2 separate regions of the Homo sapiens genome follow, and region 1 is linked to region 2. The links come from fine-mapping of genetic effects on gene expression. A gene starts in region 2. The other region holds a variant in brackets. All regions are shown on one strand. Distances are between the middles of the regions.

Region 1 (5,369 bases), 31 kb before region 2:
CTCCGAGCGGAAGGGCCGCTTCCATGGAGACGGCTTTTTTGAGCTCGGACAAAGCACTCTGGCTGCGGCGAAGGGCCGCGGCCGCCGGGCGGCGCCTTCCGAGGGCGCAGGGCGGACGCGGAGGCCCGAGAAGGCGCGGGGAGGGTGGGGAGGGTGGGGAGGCGAGAGGCCGGGCCTCCGCGTTCCCGTTCGCTGCGGGACAAAGCTCCCTGTCCTGTCCCTTCCTGGGGGCGCCCCTGCCGTGAGAAGCAGAGCCGGCGGTGGGGCCCAGCCCCTCCCAAGGGCGACTCCCCCACCCTCCACAGGCCGGGGCCTGAAGCCGTCACAGCGGGGTTCGCTGCTTCCCATTCAGGCTGTGATGGCCCGAGGCTCGGCGTGGTCTCGCTCTCTTCTCAATTAATCCATTTTAGGGGGACAGGCAATACATTTACATGGTTCAAACACAAAAATGATGGAAAAGTTAGCTTTGAAATACTTGCTTTCCCCCAGCCCTATCGACCCTGTTCTTCGGTGCCCCCTAAAGGCACCTTCTGCTCTTTATCTATCACAGGCTTATGCCAAATGCCAGCAAAAGAATGCAGCAGGGCCACTCCGCTTCTTTGTCACAGCAACCGGAGCCTAGGCTGCCCTTGTTGTGTACCCCTCCCCGCCTCCCTCCTTCCTTCCCTTCCTCCCGCCTTCTTGCTTTCCCTCCCTCCTCTCCTCCTTCCCTCCTTCCTTCCTTCTTCCTTCTCTCCCTCTTTCTTTCCTCCCTTCCTCATTCCTTCCTCCCTTCCTTCCCTCTTTCCTTCCTTCCTTCCTCCCTTCCTTCGTTCCTTCCTTCCCTCTCTCCTCCTCCCTCCCTCCTTCTTTCCTCCCTTCCTCCTTCCTTCTTTACTTCCTTCTTCCTTCCCTCCTTCCATCTTCCCTTCCTCCTTCCCTTCCACCCTTCCTCCTTCCTTCCCTCCTTCCATCTTCCCTTCCTCCTTCCCTTCCTCCCTCCCTTCCTCCCTTCCTTTCTTCTTCCTTCCTCCCTCCTTCTTCTCTCCTTCCTTCTTTCTTCCTTCCCTTCTCCCTCCTTTCCTTCCCTCCTTTCCTTCCTTCCTTCCTTCCGTCCTTCCTTCCTTCTTCACTCCCTCCCTTCCTCCCTTCCCCCTCTCCTTCCTTCCTCAGTCCCAGAGCCCTTTCCATAGGCCTGCACAGAGCTTTTTCATTCTTTCTGACATCCGCCTCAAGTGCTCCAAGGTGTACCCATGATCTTTTCAACGGACACCCTGTGGATAGGAACTTGGGCTGTGTGCTTGCCATTTTGTGCTCATACAGGTGTATCTATAGGGTCAATCTCCCCTGTTTTTGACATCCTGACCTACCGCCCGCTGACCCTCCAGCCCCACCATGGCAGTGTATCCAGTGTCAACTACCTGGAGACTTGCCAGGGCTATAAGTCTTGTGGCCCTGACTTCCTGGCTCAGCAGCCGTGAGTCTCTGCCTGCAGGGGACTCCTGCTGAGAGAGGACTTGACTGACCAGATCTGCCTCCTGGGCAGGCCCCTTAGATGGGACCTTGTGTGAGCCTTTGGTTTCCAAGGACCAAACCATGGAAGGCTCAGAGTGACTAAGAGGTTCAAAGACTCTTAGGCAGTGAGGCCCACAGGAGGTAGGAGCCCCCAGCGGTGTGATGTGGGAGCCGGGTCAGATGCAGAGGCGGAGGACGGGTGTGGATAGGGGCAGGCTGGAGGGGCTTAGCAGGGGGACCCCACACACTGGGCTGCCAGCCTGCAGCCTCCAGGGCCAAGTGTGAGGCCTGTGGGTGTGGGGGTCCTGTGTGTAAGGCCTTTGACTTCACCTGTGTGAGAAATGAATATCTCAGCCAGTGGGTGAGCTCTGTGTCCCACCCAAGCATGAAGCCCACTTTCTAATCTTCATGTGAACTTCATGATCCATGATGGAAGCTGATCATGATGGAAGCTGCCTGTGACACCTTATTCCTATCAGTATCCAATCAGTATCTGTCAAGCACTGTGGGAGGCTGTGCAGTTATTCCCAAGTTGTTCCCTGGAGACGGAGCTTCCCGGCCCTCGTGACTCAGTCTCTGCCACGGGCAATGAGCAGTGTGGCAGATGTGGCAGCTCCAGG[C/A]GCCATCGGTGGCTGCACTGTCGCTCTTTCTCCCTTGGCAGCAGCCTGGCACGTCTGGTAGGGGCTGCTGCATCAGCCTTGATTCTGGAATGAAGCTGACATGGATCAAGACCCAGCCATGCTGAGAGAGGCATAAATATGCGAGAGAAATAAACCTTTGTTATTTGAAGTCCCTAGGACGTGGGGTCGTTTGTTCTTTGGTATGACAGCTTAAGCTGGCCCATACAAGCTCTTACTCCGGCCAGGCATAGGACATAGAGCAGGGAATGGGACAGACGTGGTCTCTGCCCCTGTGGAAACATGAGGACCTGGGGAATGGCCACTCCCCCTGGCAGAGAAGCCTGGAGAAAGCAGGATTAGGGCAAAGGTCTGGAGTTCTGTCTTCAGTGTGCTAAGCTGAGGCGTCAACAAGATAGCCAAAGAGAATTGCCAAGTGTATGGTCAGGTGCACACATCTGCAGCTCAGGAGAGAGGCTTGGTGTGTAAATCTGGGCATCAATGGAACATGGATTGCCAGCGAGGAGCTAGGCACTGTGGGAAAGGAGGTAGCTCACACCCCTCAACCCCCACCACACCACGGTTTGGCCATTGGTTTGTTCCTGAAAAACATGAACCTTTTGGAAATCCACAAAAGTCTCCTAAGGGAAGAAGAAATGGGTGGGAGGAGACTTGCCATCGCATGTAGAATGTGGATTCAGGCTGCTTGTTTTTTAAATTATGAAATAGAAACCCCTGATAATTGAAGGACTTGGGGATATTAGAGTTGGAGGTATTTGAGTTCATATCCCAACCCCCTTAAAGTAGTGTTTCCAAAATTGGGTGTGCATATCACTGGTAGTACACAAGTTGATTTTAGGGGACATATGAAATCTGTTATTTTATAGTTGTGCTATTTTGTTTAGTTACCCTTTGTTTACGGCATGTGATACTGGTTTTCCATCTTCAGTGATGATATGTGCAAGTTACAGAAAGATATTTAAACAAAGGCAATAATTTGATTTAAAGGAAACTTTTAATAATCGCACATATATTGTATAAATATGCCATGAAAACTAAGTGACTCAAGTTTGAGAAACACTTCTTTAAAGGTAAATTCTGATGCCTGCATGCAACAGATGACAAGGGGGGTACGGTGTAGTTTAGTGGCCTGGCCAAGGGCCCTGGCTACTCCATGGTGCTACTGGGATACACAGCCAAACCCGGGAAGATGGTCCATGTCCTCCGAGGCCAGCTGGAAGGGCTTGTCCAGTGAGGCAGCTACAGGGCTGGGCCTGGAGCCCAGGGCTTCCCAGTGGATGCTACTGCTCAGCCCTCCTGGCCCACATCTCTTAACTCACTTGGAGGGGGTCCCTCCTGGAGGCAGGATGCCCCTTCACACCCTTATCCTCCCTTCTCATTTTCCAACGTGGCCAGCAAGTGCTTTGATCTCTCTTGGAAATGTCTCTGGCCTCCTGACTTTAGGAATGAAAAATGTCCACACCGTGGCCTGGTGGGGGTGGGGTATGAGTGTTAAAAATCAGTCTTCCAAGTGGAAAAATATTTGATGGGAATTTTGACAAACAGTTGGGGAAGGATTAGGATAAGAATGAAGTGATTTATGGAAATGAAACTATGGCCGAAAAATTCAAATTTTTTTTGTCAGCATTCCAAATGACAAAATTATTTCATCACTAGACCTCGCCAAGGCTTTCTGAAAGTTGAATACCCATTGGTCTTCCAGGGTCCAGCTCATGCCCTGCACCAAGAGTAGGGATGGGCGAGGAGGGTGTGACCCAGCAGAGAAAGTTTCAGTTTGTGAGCAAACACCTGTCATGTCCAGGAGGCCTGGAGACCTTGTGGCTCTTGTCACATGATGAAGGGGTTGAAGAAATTCATCTACACACTGTGGAACCCGGACTCAGCCCTGGACCACAACTTTCCCTCTGTCATTCATTGGCTGTGACACTGAGAGATCAATTTCCCCTCTGAGCCTCAGTTTTTCCATTTGCAGAATTGGGGAAGGAACCCCCTCCCTCTTGGGTTTGTTGTGCGAAGGCAATGAGGTGTTTCCCATGTGCAGCTGTGAACACCATGAGAACACATGCCACTCCCCATCTTCCCAAGAGCCTTGACGCCTTCTGCATGGGCATGTCTTCCACCGCAAGCAATAGAAACTGTGTCTGGTTGACTGGAGCAAGAATTGGAGAGGATGTGGGTAGCTCTCAGAATCAAAGAAAAAGTGCAAAATCAACCCATAAGAGCCAGCGTGCAGACAGTCCCCTCTTAGGAACTGAGGGACACTCCTCAGGGAGCCATGGCAGCAGCACAGCAGGTCAGCTGTTTCCGTCTTGGCATGGCTCCACTATGACTCAGCGTCCTGGGGGAACCAGAGTCTGATTGGCTTGGCCCGTGTCCCAGCTCCTCGCCCAGGAAATGCCTCAATTGATTGTTACACCAGGACTGCATGCAACATAGACTTGTGCCCTAGAGCCAAATCAGTGAGTGCCATCAGAAGGACCGGGCATGGGGAATGAAAATAAACCACCACCGCCAACAAAAAAACGGGGGAACCAACCATAAATTCCTTCCGCTGAATGTTGGAGCCCATCTTTTCATTTGCATGATCCACCCTCTCCATTCTGTGTCTTCCAGTTGCAGCTACTCTTCAAGGATCACTAAGGACCATTCCACCTACTGAACAGTGATCACAGCATCAGTGTGTTAACTTCTGCTGTGAGCACCAATCTTCACATTCTCCAAAGTGCTGTGTGATTGCAGTTCCTATCATATCCACTCTTGTTGGCTTTTCACACGTACTGATGAGCTGTCAAGGCAGGAGATCCCCCATTTCCAGGGCCCTACAGAGGTTCAGATGAGAGAAGAGACAGGAAGTGAGTGACCTAAGCTCATAAGGCTTGTACGTGATGGAGCTAGGGCTTTACTTACTAATTTTAGGAATTTTTCTGTTTATTCTCTTGAGACTTCTGCAGATCAAAATCATTGTATCTGAAAATAGTAATGTTTTATGTCTTCTCTCTTAATAATTATGTATTCTATTTTGTTTTTATTTTATTGCACTACTAAAAAATTTTACAATAAAAAAGTGACAGCTGATACCTCTATTTATTTCCTGGACTTGATGAGCGTGTTTCTCAGGTTCTGCTGTAAAGCACAATGTGTAAAGTATGTAAAATGGTAATACTTGGCATACAGTAAGTGCTACATAGGTGTTAATATTTGCATCACTCTGTAGTTCTGAACTCATCTGCCTAACAA
Region 2 (5,369 bases):
TAAGGCAGGAGAATCGCTTGAACCTAGGAGGTGGAGGGTCCATTGAGCTGAGATTGCACCATTGGACTCTAGCCTGGGTGACAGAGTGAGACTCTACCTCAAAAAAAAATAAATAAATAAAGTTGAGAGAGGTTCATGAAGAAAAATTACAGGCCTCTCTGTGATCACATAATGGAGGAATCTGTCCTAGTAAGGCTGAGGCTAGGGAAAGCTTCCCTGAAGTCATGGCATTTTAGTAGGAACTTCCTGAAGAATGATGGGGGTTCTCTGGACAAAGATGAACGGCACATGGAAACTTTATGAGTCGAGAAGTTCCACAGATATGAGGGACAGCAGGGAGACCTGCAGGCTGGAGCCTAAAGAACAAGGGGACAGTGCCTGAAAGTAGGCTAAGTGGATCAGCAGGCACAGGCCACCTCAATCCTGGGTGCCCATACTGGCTTATGTGAGCAAAATACATGCATTAAGCCATTCAACAAACATTTATTTAGCAACTGCTACAAGCCATCACTGTGTATTGGGGATACAACAGTGAATACATCTCACAAATTTCCTGTCCTCAAAGAGCTTACAGTCTAGTGGGAGAGACAGACAATGAACAAACAAAGAAACAAGGAAATATCAGATATACAGTTAAGTGCTGTGAAGGAAATAGAACAGGGTGATGTGGCAGGGAGTGGCTGAGGGACTTCCTTAGTTTGTGTGACCTGGAACAGCCTCTCTAAGGCTCTGCATCAGATATCTGATATGTGATACCATATGGGAGCAGGCTCTGAAAGAACACTACAAGTAGAGAGGTAAAGGCAGGGGCTGCAGCAAGCCTGATGTGTTCAGGCACTGAGCAGAGAGAGGGCCAGGTGGTCGGGACTTAGCGAGAGGGTCGCCTCAAAAGAAGTGAGGCTTAGCAGGGCACGGAGCAGTGCGGCCGCAGGTGTGGTGGGAAGGGTGTTCCAGGAGAAGGAGCCACCTGGACACAGGCTTGCAGTCATGAAACAATACGCAATTATCACTCCCGGCATTCTACATGGCCTTGCCTGAGACCGGGCTGGCCAGGATCTCTGGGAACCAGGAGGAGGGGTCTGCGGCACCAGGACTGAGTAGAAGGGAGAGAGTGGAGAAGGGGAATTGCAGAGAGAAAACCAGGGGCTGTTTTTCTCTCGGAGAGGCGGGTAGGCACTGGGCGGGCAGAAGCGCCGCTATCCACCCGGATGCGCAGCTGCTAAGGGGCCGCCTCTGCAAGCGGCTGCAAATTCCCGGAGGGCAGCGTCTCCTTTCGCTCTGCTGTGTCCGTAGCACATGGCAGGTACTTGGCCCATCAAGAGTGAGAGAGGGTGAGCGAGTGAGTGAGTCACCGGCTTGGCGAGGGTCTCCTCTGACCCACTTAGCCTTGCCAGCGCTCAGAACTGCCAGCCCTGCTGGGTGCTTGGGACTTTTCAAAGCCCTGGGAATTCTCCAAGGGTCCACAGTAAGTCTTCTTGACCTAAGCGGGAAAGAGCGCAGGCCCCTGCGGGGTTGGCTTTTACATGGCATTTATAGACCCGCCCGGAGAGGGTGCGCTGCGCTCCCGCCATAGTCCCACCACCGGTGAGCGCCGCCCCCACTCGGCTGACTCTCCGCCCGCCCCGCGCCCCTCCCCTCACGGGCTCTGGCCTTAACCAGAGCTCGCGGACTGGCGGGGACAGGTCCCACCTCCTGGCTCCCAGGACGGGTCTGCACCAACCTCAGTTTCGGGGCTGCGGCTCACAGAAGTCTAACCTGCCCGGGACGCCCGCACCAACTCCTGCGCGCGGTGAGTTTCTGGGCTCTCGAGAGCGCTGGACTCCCGGCGGAAAGGAGGCTGCCCCGGCTGCAGCTCCGGGGGCTCCGGGGGCTCCAGGGGCTCCAGGACTCGGTTCTCACCGCAAGGGCTCCTGCGGGGCCCATCAACTTCGCCGCTGGGACGCCGGGCTCGGGGTACGGGTCCGGAGTTCTTTGGAGCAATTGAGGCTGAACCTGGCCAGGGGTCATCAGGCTAAATGACCGCAGCGCCAGGACTGGCCCGCCGAGGATCTGGCCGGCCGCGGTGGTAGGGCCCTTACGGAGCTGGCGCCAACCTGTGGGGTGGGCACTGCTGGCCCGGCTTATGGAAGAGAAAACTGAGGCTCGATAAGAGAAAGGGACCAGCGAAGGCGACGCGATGATTTGTGACTGGGGACTACCTGTTTCCTGGGCCCCTCGACCCCATTCTGTGACAGGGAAAGGTCTTCCCTGATTGGCCAAATCTGGGGGCCTGGCACGAGGGCCTCTTGTGATTGGAGGGGTCGACGTGAGCGCTCAGGGGCTGCGCTGGAGTCCCAGCTCCAGCCACTGCGCTCAAGTGGACGGTCGCGCGTGCAGAGGGAGGCCGGATAGCAGACCCCACAACGTGGCTCCTGGGGCCCCGCTATCGAGAGCTCAGGCCCCGCGGGCACTTGCCTAGGAGAGGAAAGAATCTTCCCAAAGTGCAGACAGAGACGGAATTTAATCAGGAGTCCCAGACTTGGAGTTTGGAGGCATGGGCTCTGGTGTCAGGTGACTTTGTTTCCTCCCCACGCCTCCACTTCTCCTTGACCTTGGGCAAGTTTCTTGTGTTCTGAATCTTAGTTTCTTGTCTCTAAAATCGGGAGGGGCAATGAACAGTAGTGCCTGCCTCCCAAGATTGCTTGAGAATTACATGAGACTGCCCCGCGCCTGGCCCTAGGAAACCCTCGGAGAATGTTGGCTGCTGTTTGTTTGTTTGTTTGTTTGAGACAGAGTCTCGCTCTGTCGCCCAGGCTGGAGTGCAGTGGCACGATCTCGGCTCACTGCAACCTCCGCCTCCCGGGTTCAAGTGATTCTCCCGCCTCAGCCTCCCGAGTGCTAGAACTGCATTCATGGGCCCCAGGGCCCTAGCACCAGAACAGAGGGCCCAGAGCTGCAGTCCTGCAGGGTGGCCCAGCCTCACAGGGACTAGAAGCTGGGTCCTGGAGAGCCAAGCCTGGGCTGGGAATTGGGTAGGAGGGTTGGGAGGCCCAGGAAGCCTCCCAGTGTCCCCACACCACCAAGTGAAAGGACACTGAGCGGCCATGACTGGGGGAGGAGGTGGAGGCCTGGAGGCGGCCCATACGGCCCACAAGGGGCTCTATGGGCTTCACTGCAGGCCCCTGCTCTTTCTGGGGCCAAAGGGCAAGCCTGATTGAGGCCCCTCCCAAGGCTCCCGTGCCTGCCATTCTGGCTTTCCCTGGACTGTGACAACAGCCCCTTGGTGGCCACCTGGACTCTGCCTCCCTGCAGGGGGGGAACGACATACTCTTTTATTTTTTTTTTTCAGAAGTAATCATGTACAATATAAAAAAAGAACATTCAGTTAAGAAAACAAAATAATTACAGTCGTCAAAAACCTCTGAAACCCAAAACCCTTTACCCAGTAACTTTCAACATTTCAGTGTAAATTCTTCTAGGCTTTTACCCTGCAGATAAACACACGCATGCACACACAGACACACACACACACACACACAAACTTAAGCCTTACACAATTATCGTGGTTTGTTACTTGTTGGGTGTTTTGACAGTGTCAGGTTTGTATAACTCAATATTTACCAATATTTTCTAATAATTTAATGTTTTCTTCTTATATTTGATTTTCAAGTATTTATTTTTAACCCAATTGGACTGTATTTTAGAGTAAGATGTGAACTATAGAGCTAGATTCATTTATTTATTTCAATTAGTAGACATTTTTAGAGCAGTTTTAGGTTTACAGAAGAATTGAGGACGGAGTGCAGAGTTCCCATATTCTCAGTCTGTCCCTTCCTGCGCGCTTTCTCCTATTTTTCTTTCTATTCTTTTCCTTTCTTTTTTTTTTTTTCTTTTTTTTTTTTTTTGAGACAGGGTCTCACTTTGTTGCCCAGGCTGGAGTGCAGTGGCACAAACACAGCTTACTGCAGCTTTGAACTCCTGGGCTCAAGTGATTCTCATGCCTCAGCCTCCCAAGTAGCTGGGACTACAGGCATGCACAACCACGCCTGGCTAATTTAAAAATTTTTTTGTAGAGATGGGTCTCACTTTGTTGCCCAAGCTGGCCTTGAACTCAAGGGCTCAAGTGATCCTCTGCCTTGGCCTCCCAAAGTGCTGGGATTACAGGCATGAACCACTAGGCCTGGCCTCCCCTATTTTTAACATCATGCATTGATAGGATATTTTTGTTACAGCTTTTTTCTTTTTGAAACAGTCTTGCTCTGTTGCCTAGGCTGGAGTGCAGTGGCACAATCTCAGCTCACTACAGTTTCTGCCTCCCAGGTTCAAGCAATTCTTGGGCCTCAGCCTCTCGAGTAGCTGGGATTACAGGTGCACCACCATGCCCAGCTAATTATTGTATTTTTATAATAGTAGAGACAGGGTTTTACCATGTTAGCCAGGCTGCTTTTGAACTCCTGGCCTCAAGTGATCAGCCCGCCTTGGCCTCCCAAAGTGCTGGGATTACAGGTGTGAGCCACCAGGCCTGGCCAATTTTGTTATACTTGGTGAGCCAATATCGATGCAATGTTATTAATGAAAGTCCATAATTTACATTAGAATTCCCTCTTGGTGTTGTACCTTCTATGGTTTTGGACAAACATATAATGATGAGTATCCAGTGTTACAGTATCATAGAGAATAGTTTCACTGCCCTAAAACTCTCCTGTGCTCTACCCATCCACCCCCCAACCCCCCTACCTATCCCTGGCAACCACTGGTTACTGCCTTTGTAGTTTTGCCTTTTCCAGAATGTCATATAGTATGTATGAATCATATGGTATATAGCCTTTCCAGACTGGCTTCTTTCGCTTAGCAAAATGCATTTAAGCATCCTCCATGTCTTTCTGTGACTTGGTAACCCATTTCTTTTTATCATTGACTAATATTCTGTTGTATGGATGTGGAGGTACCACAGTTTATTTCTCCATTCACATACTACAGGATATCTTGGTTGCTTCCAAGTTTTAGCAGTGAATAAAGCTGCTATCAACATTTGTGTGCAGGTTTTTGTGTGGACATTAGTTTTCTTCTCCTTTGAGTAAATATCAAGAGCGATTGATGGATCACATGGTAAAAGTATGTTTCGTGTTATAAAAAACTACCAAACCTTTTTCCATAGTGGTGGCATAATTTTTCATTTCTACCAGTAATAAATAAGAGTTCCTGTTGCTCCACAGCCTCATCAGCATTTGTTGTCAGTGCTCTTAATTTAACTCTTCTAATACGCATATAGTAGTATCTCATTGTTATATTTTAATTTGCAATCTGTAATGACTTACAGTGTTGAGCATCTTTTTAAATGCTTCTCTGCCATCTGTATATCTTCTTTTGTGAATGTCGGTTAATTTACT

What was found. PIP is the estimated chance that this variant, and not a neighbour inherited with it, causes the effect.
Region 1: its variant is fine-mapped to the expression of ALDH1L1-AS2 in testis (GTEx, PIP above 0.99).

The regions. Positions count from the first base shown.
Region 1 is chr3:126,207,908-126,213,276 of GRCh38, reverse strand. It overlaps ALDH1L1-AS2 (ALDH1L1 antisense RNA 2), which reads right to left. Exons shown (of 2, transcript NR_046383.1): 2 at 3,108-4,951. LOC124909426 (a long non-coding RNA gene) reads right to left here and starts at 245. Exons shown (of 3, transcript XR_007096060.1): 1 at 1-245. RefSeq lists an enhancer at 3,949-5,148. The variant C/A (reference allele first, on the strand shown) is at 2,115.
Region 2 is chr3:126,176,896-126,182,264 of GRCh38, reverse strand. It overlaps ALDH1L1-AS2 (ALDH1L1 antisense RNA 2), which reads right to left and starts at 2,200. Exons shown (of 2, transcript NR_046383.1): 1 at 1,721-2,200. ALDH1L1 (aldehyde dehydrogenase 1 family member L1) reads left to right here and starts at 1,679. Exons shown (of 23, transcript NM_012190.4): 1 at 1,679-1,789. RefSeq lists enhancers at 510-1,263, 1,264-2,019.